Linked DNA regions of Homo sapiens. The protein of the gene in region 2 purifies or fractionates together with the protein of the main gene of each other region. This does not show direct contact. Each region holds a gene or a part of one and is shown on either strand. Other genes may lie near its edges.

The links. Proteins that work in one complex are often made in the same cells at the same time.
Region 1: the proteins of TMEM245 (region 2) and ENPP6 purify together in Homo sapiens (co-immunoprecipitation; one large-scale study listed by IntAct). This does not show direct contact.

What each region holds. Positions count from the first base shown.
Region 1 is NC_000004.12:184,215,074-184,219,308, forward strand, and holds the start of ENPP6 (glycerophosphocholine cholinephosphodiesterase ENPP6 precursor), read right to left. Parts: upstream 2,801-4,235; 5' UTR 2,747-2,800; coding exon 2,506-2,746; intron 1-2,505. UniProt on the Homo sapiens protein: Choline-specific glycerophosphodiesterase that hydrolyzes glycerophosphocholine (GPC) and lysophosphatidylcholine (LPC) and contributes to supplying choline to the cells.
Region 2 is NC_000009.12:109,092,448-109,095,947, forward strand, and holds part of TMEM245 (transmembrane protein 245), read right to left. Parts: intron 1,145-3,500; coding exon 1,028-1,144; intron 1-1,027.

The sequences.
Region 1 (4,235 bases), on a different chromosome or scaffold from region 2:
GCAGCCCCGGCAGTTCATCTCATTTTATTTTGCCTGAAGTCTCCAAGCAAGTTCTCCCAGCTCAAGGGCCAGCATTCTTTCCAACAACTCATCACTCCTCGTTATGCAAAGGGAAGAACACCAAGGGCTTTCTGTATTCTGAGCAATAATTCGGGTAATGAAGTGAGAGCTTAGCCTCTCTTGTGAATGCTGAGGAACCCTAAAACAGCATATCTTTTGCTTCCAAAAAGATCTAGCATAGCAATTTTGTTGGTTCATAAAATGCTCAAATGCTCAAACCATATGTTTAGCTACAATTCCCAATGGCTATATCCTTCTTTATATGAGTAAAAGAGGAGGTTTTCAGCATCAGGTGGAAAAATAAGTATGGGTATTGGGGAAAATAGTCTAAATTTAACTCTGAGTCAGTTCCAAGACAGTGGAGGTGATACCAGGTTCATGGCCTGGCATTTCCCAGCCTGCGAATTCTGCTTCAAGTCTGCAAGTCTGCCCAGTAGGTACAAGACAAATCATACCCAAGGACATTTGTACAGAAACATGAGCCTTGCTAGATCCCTCCCTTGTGCAGGGTAGCTTCTATGAAACATATAGACCAAGCAGACTTCCACATCAGTGAATACATTTGGCCATCTGAAAATACAGAGACTTAACACATATGGAGACCTGTGGCTTCCTCGGGCCAGCCTCAGTTTGAAAGCAAGGGTGAGATCTTTGTCAGACACTCACGGGACCTGTGCTGCCCATAAAGGAAGGGGCCCTTCTCTCAGGACAGCACAAGGGAAAACACCCACAGCCGGAAAAGAAGGTGTGTCTCAGCATGACGGAGGCTGTGTGCAAATTATTCCTTGTGCCAATATCAGGAGTGTGGATCTGACAAACAAAAGGCCATGTCATTGGCTTAGTGTCTCTGTGGAGTCTGTAATGGTCCTTTTACTTACTTGAGTCCTTTCTAAGATGGATTTTGTTCATTTTCCACTAAGATTGCAGAAGCTGCACGTGGCGTGGCAGTTTATGAATTGGGTCCCCTGGCAAGGCTCTGAAAGACAGCTGGAGTGGGGGTGGGCTGTGTGTGTGAAGCCGCTGCACAGAGCTGGAGTCGGCTGTCCACACAATCACGTCTATGTGAGAGCCGGCAGCCTGCAAACTGCTTCCCTGCAAGGGGAGACACATGCCAGGGGAGGGCCAGAGAATTTTGTTAATTCTGTTTATCTTAGAGACTGTTTTTTTGTCTGCTGGGGGAAATAAAAAACAAATACATAACTTCCTTGCTTGTGTGCAGTCTGATTTTTTTCTCTCTCTCATGCCCTCATTTTTATTTCTCCGAAGTATCTCTCCCCTTCAGTTTGGGGCATCAGTTTATGGCATTTTTCCGTACATGTGTATATAGTATCTATGCACAAAGTCAGAGATATAAATGTCTGTTTTAGACTCTTTTGGCTTTAGTGTTCTGTGGAGGTCCATGAGATATCAGAGATCTCATTTTCTTTCTGTTAACATAATTAGCAGAGCTCTCTCTGTGCTCAGAGTGCATAGCTGAGTCCCGCATAACCAGCAATAACAGTGCATTCTTAGCAGCCTCCCTGGATAGTTTGCTAAATTCTTTCTGAGAGCCTCTCGCTGCCTTTACAAAGGTTATAGCTGAAAAACAAACCAGAAACTGGGAATCCAACTCTGTGAGCAGAGAGAGGGCTGCACATTCTATTATCGCACGGATAGAGGCTCAGGTTCATGCAGTCGCGTTTGGAGTCCTGGCAATTTCAGATGAAGGCCGTCCTTAGGAAAATCAGCTATCCCAAGCCCAGGCAGTCTGGGTTAGCCGAGGTTTTTGTTTGTTTTGTGGAGTTTTTGCTGGTTGGTCTTTTGTAGATGCTGCAAATCACAAATGGGGAACCTGAACGACACAAGCTTTTTCTTCTCCGTATCATTTTACCTGGCCAAAAAGGCAAAAGAAGGGGAAGGTGGCATTGCTAAGTCACAGGGAAGGATATGACCTAAACATCCCCCCTTCCCCAAGTAATCCGGGAGCACCACTCCCCTCTGAGGACCCCACAGGTACTTTCACAGTCCAACACACTGAGAAACAAGCCCACAGGGTGCCAGGATGACATGACCACAGAGAAAAGGGACAGAAGGAGTTTGGGACACATGCACGGACACCTGTTGCTTTTGCAGACTTGAACTTAGAAAATATGAGCCTCATTAGAATTTCTCTTTCTAAAATAAACGACCACTTTTAATATCGTCAAATATCATGTACTGCTATAGTTCTCTGTCCTCCGCACTGAGAATCCAAAACAGGTCCTTGGGATAACTTTTGGGAAACAATACCGCCACGAAAACAAAAGTCTTCTCAGCCAAGAACACAGATTTTTTTTATCTACCTTTGATGTCCCAAAGGACTAGAGAATCCAGAGCATTTAAATAAGACTCCAATGCCAGGAGCTCACTGTTCCCTGCTGGATGCCAGCCCTCCCCTCCCTGCCCAGAAGAGGACATGGTACTCACCAGTCATTAGGGTATAATAATTGGGATACGAGAGACTAGGGAAGTCTGGAGTCAAGTAATCCACTTTTACTCCCCTGCTCACAATCTCTTTGAAACCAGGCAATGACTCCAGCGCCTCATCACTGATGTAGTCTGAGCGAAAACCATCCAGCAGAAACACCAGCAGCTTCCGGCGGGCAGAGGCTGGCTGGGCCAGGCCCAGGGCAAGGGCCAGCAGGAGGGTCCCAAGCTTCACTGCCATGCTGCCAGGAGCCTGCCAGAGCCCGGCTGGCACAGCTGTCGCCTTGCAAAGACTGAGGATGGAGAATCTGTAGCTATTCTCTCTTCCAGGGGCTGGACCTTGAGCCGCTGGCCTTCCTGAGTCAAGTTCACTTGCAGAATTTAAAGGAACAGCACCCCCTTTTCCACACATCTATGCTCACCCTTTACTAGAAAGTCCAGAGACCGACTCCTTCAGATAAACTGGGTTCCAAACAACCCAGAATTAACACCAGGGGAGAGAGTTCAAACTTATTATTTTTGGTGAACGTTCCAGAAATACAAGCACCCACAGAGGTGGAATTTTAGAAGATGACAAAGTCAACACTAACTTTGCAGTTGAGCTAACCAAAGGGAGGAACCAAGGAAAAGGGCAAGATTTTAATTTGCTGTTATCCCACATCATGGCCTCATTTAAACTCTTTTTCACTTAGAATTTAGTAACGCAAACCTCTGGACTCAGTGCATAAACAGGAAACAATACGTTTCGGTGGGCCCATTTGTAAACTTCCCAGCTGTGTCTCTGTAGACACAGCACTTAAAAAAGTTATTTGTCTATGTCTTGGCCACTTATGTTTTTATATGCAGTGTTATTATTTGTTATTATTTTATTTTTCAAATGTGATTTAGCTGCTGGTGCCCATAGGAGGAGGTGGTTCGTAGAAGAGCCCTAGAGCCAATGAGAAGCTTCCAGAGTTGGACAATGGGAAATCATTACTGGCAGAATGGTCTGAAGCAGCATTGCCCCAGGAGGATGGAAATGAAATAGAGAGCTGGAGATTGAGAGCTTGAGATGGAAAAGCAGAGCTAGAAATTACCATGCAGGCTTTGGGACCGAGAAGACTAGGCGGAGTGGAAAATAGGAGGAGGTTAGTGACAGGGAGGCAGATGTGAGCTGGGGAGCAGACAGAGTTAGCACAAAGTACCCAGAGTCCAGGGGTTCCCTAGAGTGGCTCCGTCATGCTACATAAAATTAAACAACACAATTCATGTGAAGGCTTATAAAACATGGCTGAGTGCAGTGGCCCACTTTGGGAGGCCAAGGTGGAAGGATTGCTTGAGGCCAGGAGCTTGAGACCAGCCTGGGCAACACAGCAAGACCCCATCTCTATAAAAAATTAAAAAATTAGCTGGGCCTGGCGGCACGTGCCTGGTCCCAGCTACACAGGAGGCTGAGGTGGGAGGATTGTGTGAGCACAGGTGGTCATATCTGCAGTAAGCTGTGATTGTATCACTGCACTCCAGGCTGGGCAACAGAGTGAGGCCCTGCCTCAAAAAAAAAAAGACATAAAACATGCATGGTCCATAGCAAGTGTTGAACAAATGTTAGATGTTATTCGCATTATAACATTGCTTGTCTCCTGAGGAAACTTGCAGGCTCTGGGCAAACTTTCCAGGGAAGGAAGATAGACACCAGCCACACCAGCCACTCTCAGTCAACCCCAAAATCCCTCTTCCACCTCTGCCCTCTG
Region 2 (3,500 bases):
AAGCCCAAGCTAGTTAACAGATGCTTTTGTTTGACTTTGCTCTGAGTTATCTTTCTAATTTGGAAACTTCATGATGGTGGGTGTGACAGATATTTGGAAGAATGAGTCCAAAACCAAAATATCATTTCCTCTCCACTTTGGAAACATAATTCCATGTGCAAGAAAAATAAGTGTTCCTACTACACCAAATTCCTTTATCTTAGCTGACATTTCTAAAGTCAGTTCTTCAAGGAGAATTCACTCTAAATATTCCCTAACTCCAAATACCTCTGGCACTAATGGATCTCTCAGCACAGACTAAGGTGGCCTTTTACATTCTGGAACTCTGCAAGAGTACAGCATGACTCTACAGCTGGTATATCTACCAGCTGGATTCCTCAGGAGCCTGCAATTCCCAAAGCCAGGCCACACAGGACAACGAGTCCAAAACAACCAGAGGGGTCTGTTTGAGGGGTCAATATATTAACACATGAAGCATGCAAACTTTCAGAGAAAGAATGACAGAGAAATGGATGACTGCAAGATGGAAAATAAAAGTCTTCCCCAAAAAAAGGGTTGGGAAAAGGGAACAAAAGAAAGAAAAAACAACAGGAAGAGATAGGGCAAAATAAAATCATGGAGGAGAACTGACAGTTGTAGAAGAAAGAAATGGAAAATAAGAAATCAAGATAAGATATGCGTAAAGTGGAGGGAAATGTGGGAAAGGTAAATGGAGACGGAGAAAAGGAAAATAAGAAAAACAAAAGCAATGAATAACAGAAGAAAAATAAGAAAAGCCTTTTTTAAAAAGGAAAGAACAAAGAACCAAGGTAAGAAACTCAAGAAGTTACATAATTACATGTATTTAAAAAGTGATATATGAGAACAAAGATGAGAGGGAAAAGGGCATAAAAATAGGAACCAAAGAGAATAAATGAAGGATCAGCAGGAGTAAGTAGCATTTTGTGATGCTGGTGTCCTGAATTTTACTTTCTATGTACATTTCATTTTCCAGAATAACCTTGAATGTCACCAGAACATCAGTCACCTGCAGGCTGAGTGGAGGGCTGGTCTTCACTGCTTGATTCATACCCTGTGATAGAGATGGCCAAGTTTGCCAGAGTAGAAGCTGCCATGGAGATAACCTGCCCTGGTAACTCTGCCCCTGTAAAAGAAGCATCCATTTTCAAAACTCTTTAAAGTAGGAAATAATGGCTGCAAATTTAAACACAGTCCAACATTTTCAACAACAACAAAATAAAATGGTTACTACTGACCCACTGAATAAGTGGTTCTTCACCAAGGAAGAACCATTAAGAATTGACATGAAAGTGTGCTAAAAAAGCAAATCCCTTGACTCTCTGTATACCTTCCTCCTTTGGGAACTTAATGCTGGTGGATGTGGCAGACACTACACATGTAAACTTGGAGTCCCACACTTACATTTGTTAACAAGTTGATTTTAATGCATACTTCTATTGAAAAACACTACCACATCAAGTCTGTGAGCTCCCTGATCTGACTGTCTTAGGCTATGTTGTATGACTAGGTCTCATGTTAGTACGAGATAATCCACAATTGGTGGTCATAACAACATTCCACAAATGAGTATGCGAATATATGGCTATTATGCAAAACCATATAGATTTATAAATTACATAACTCAGTACAGGCAAAATCCACCACTTGAAAATCTAAAGGAACATCATGACGTTGTTTCACATTATATATTTCCATGTTAAATTCCTAATAGGTAGTACCAAGCTCAATCATTTGCACTAAATTCAAGTAAAACATTCACTGGCAAAGGAAGTCTGTCAACCTTTAACCTTCTATAGCAGACAAGGAAGAATAGCTCACATAGCATCGGGTTCTAGCACACTTTCTTGCACACTAGACTGGAGAGCTAAAAAAATTGTATTTCTTGGATTCCCCTGCAGCCGAGGTCTCACATGTGACACAGTTTCTACCAAGCAGGTACACCTGTGCAGGACTTGAGAGCCTGAAGTGGCACACTGTAATTTGAAAGCCAGAGCTCTTGTATCAAACACAGTCAGTCAGGAAGGCATATGGTTTTTCCGCAGCAACTTAGCAGAAGTTCTGATGTCTGATCTCTAACTTCACGGCGAGCAGCAGCAGCCGTGGCCCTCTGCCCAAACAGTCCTTCAGTGTCACTGAGCATTTCTCCTGATTGCACTGCTTCCACCTGTGTCAGATTCCAAGATTAATTGTCTGGTCTTTCCAGAAATTCCATGTGCAAAAATTGTAAATGCTAACCAATACCTCCTACTATTTATTTAAACTACCTGGGGTAGATTCTATTGTTCACAACTAAGAACACTAGCAATTCCTAGTCACCAAATCATACACCCACACTCATACAACTGAGACATTACTTTTGGTAGGCCAAGACTCCGTATGGCAACATAGGATTCTGTCACCCCAATGAAAAGAGCCATGATCCTTCAGAAAGCCGATGAATTTCAGCTCCAAGTTAATTAACTCCACATACCCAAATATCCAAAGCTAGCCCTCTCCCAGATAGCAGCAAGCCAGAGCCTGAGGTGGATCTTTGGTAGATTCAGACATCAGGATAAGAGTACTCACCTTGCTCAGTCATACTCTGTCCCTCCTCTAATAAATGCCCCTGTGACCTGAAAGAGTTCATTTTTAGATAGGGTATCGTATCTCTCAATATGAGAGAAATTCAAACTCATGGTCTGAGAGGAAAGCCTAAGTTAGATTTCTGGATTAGGACCTTACTCTCCTGGCCTGTGTATCCAAGGTCCTCCTGAAATGCCAATAAGACAGAAAGGGCTGACAGAGAAAAACAGTGTCTTTCATTTCTTACATGTACTGTGTGCTGGGGATAAAGACACAGACCCTGCCCCCAGGGAGTATAGTAAAGGTATGAATTAAATAACCACACAAATAAACGTGTGTATAGAAATTATGGTTGCTATAAAAAGAAATGCTGGGTATCTTGTGACATCCTAACAATATCTTGGGCAGAAGGAAAGCTGTGAGAAGAACCCGGCATATTAAAGACAGTGAAAGAAGGTCAGTGTGTCTGGAACACAGACAGCTAGTAAGAAACTGGTATCAAATAAACAAGGCTGGAGAGGTAAGCCAGATGATGCAGATCACAGAACACCACATGAAGGACTTTAGTGTTTATTCTAAGAGGAAGAAGAACGCACTGAAGAGTTTCAAACAGGATAGTAGTCTTCTTCTCACTGAAATTTTATTGAGATAAAAGTATACTCATATGCAGTTGCAAGAAATAATCCCAGTGTACCACAATTTGTCCAGTTTCCCCTGACACAAGATACAGAACAGCATCATCACTATAAGGATCTCTCGTGTTGACCTTTTATAACCACACTCAACTGCCTCTCACCCCTCTCACCACCCTGTAAATAAATAATCCATTTGAGATATAAGACCATTCTTGCTTGTCTGGAGAAAAAGAGACTAGAGGGGACCTATAACGTATGGAGAAAAGTTGTTGCAGTACTATA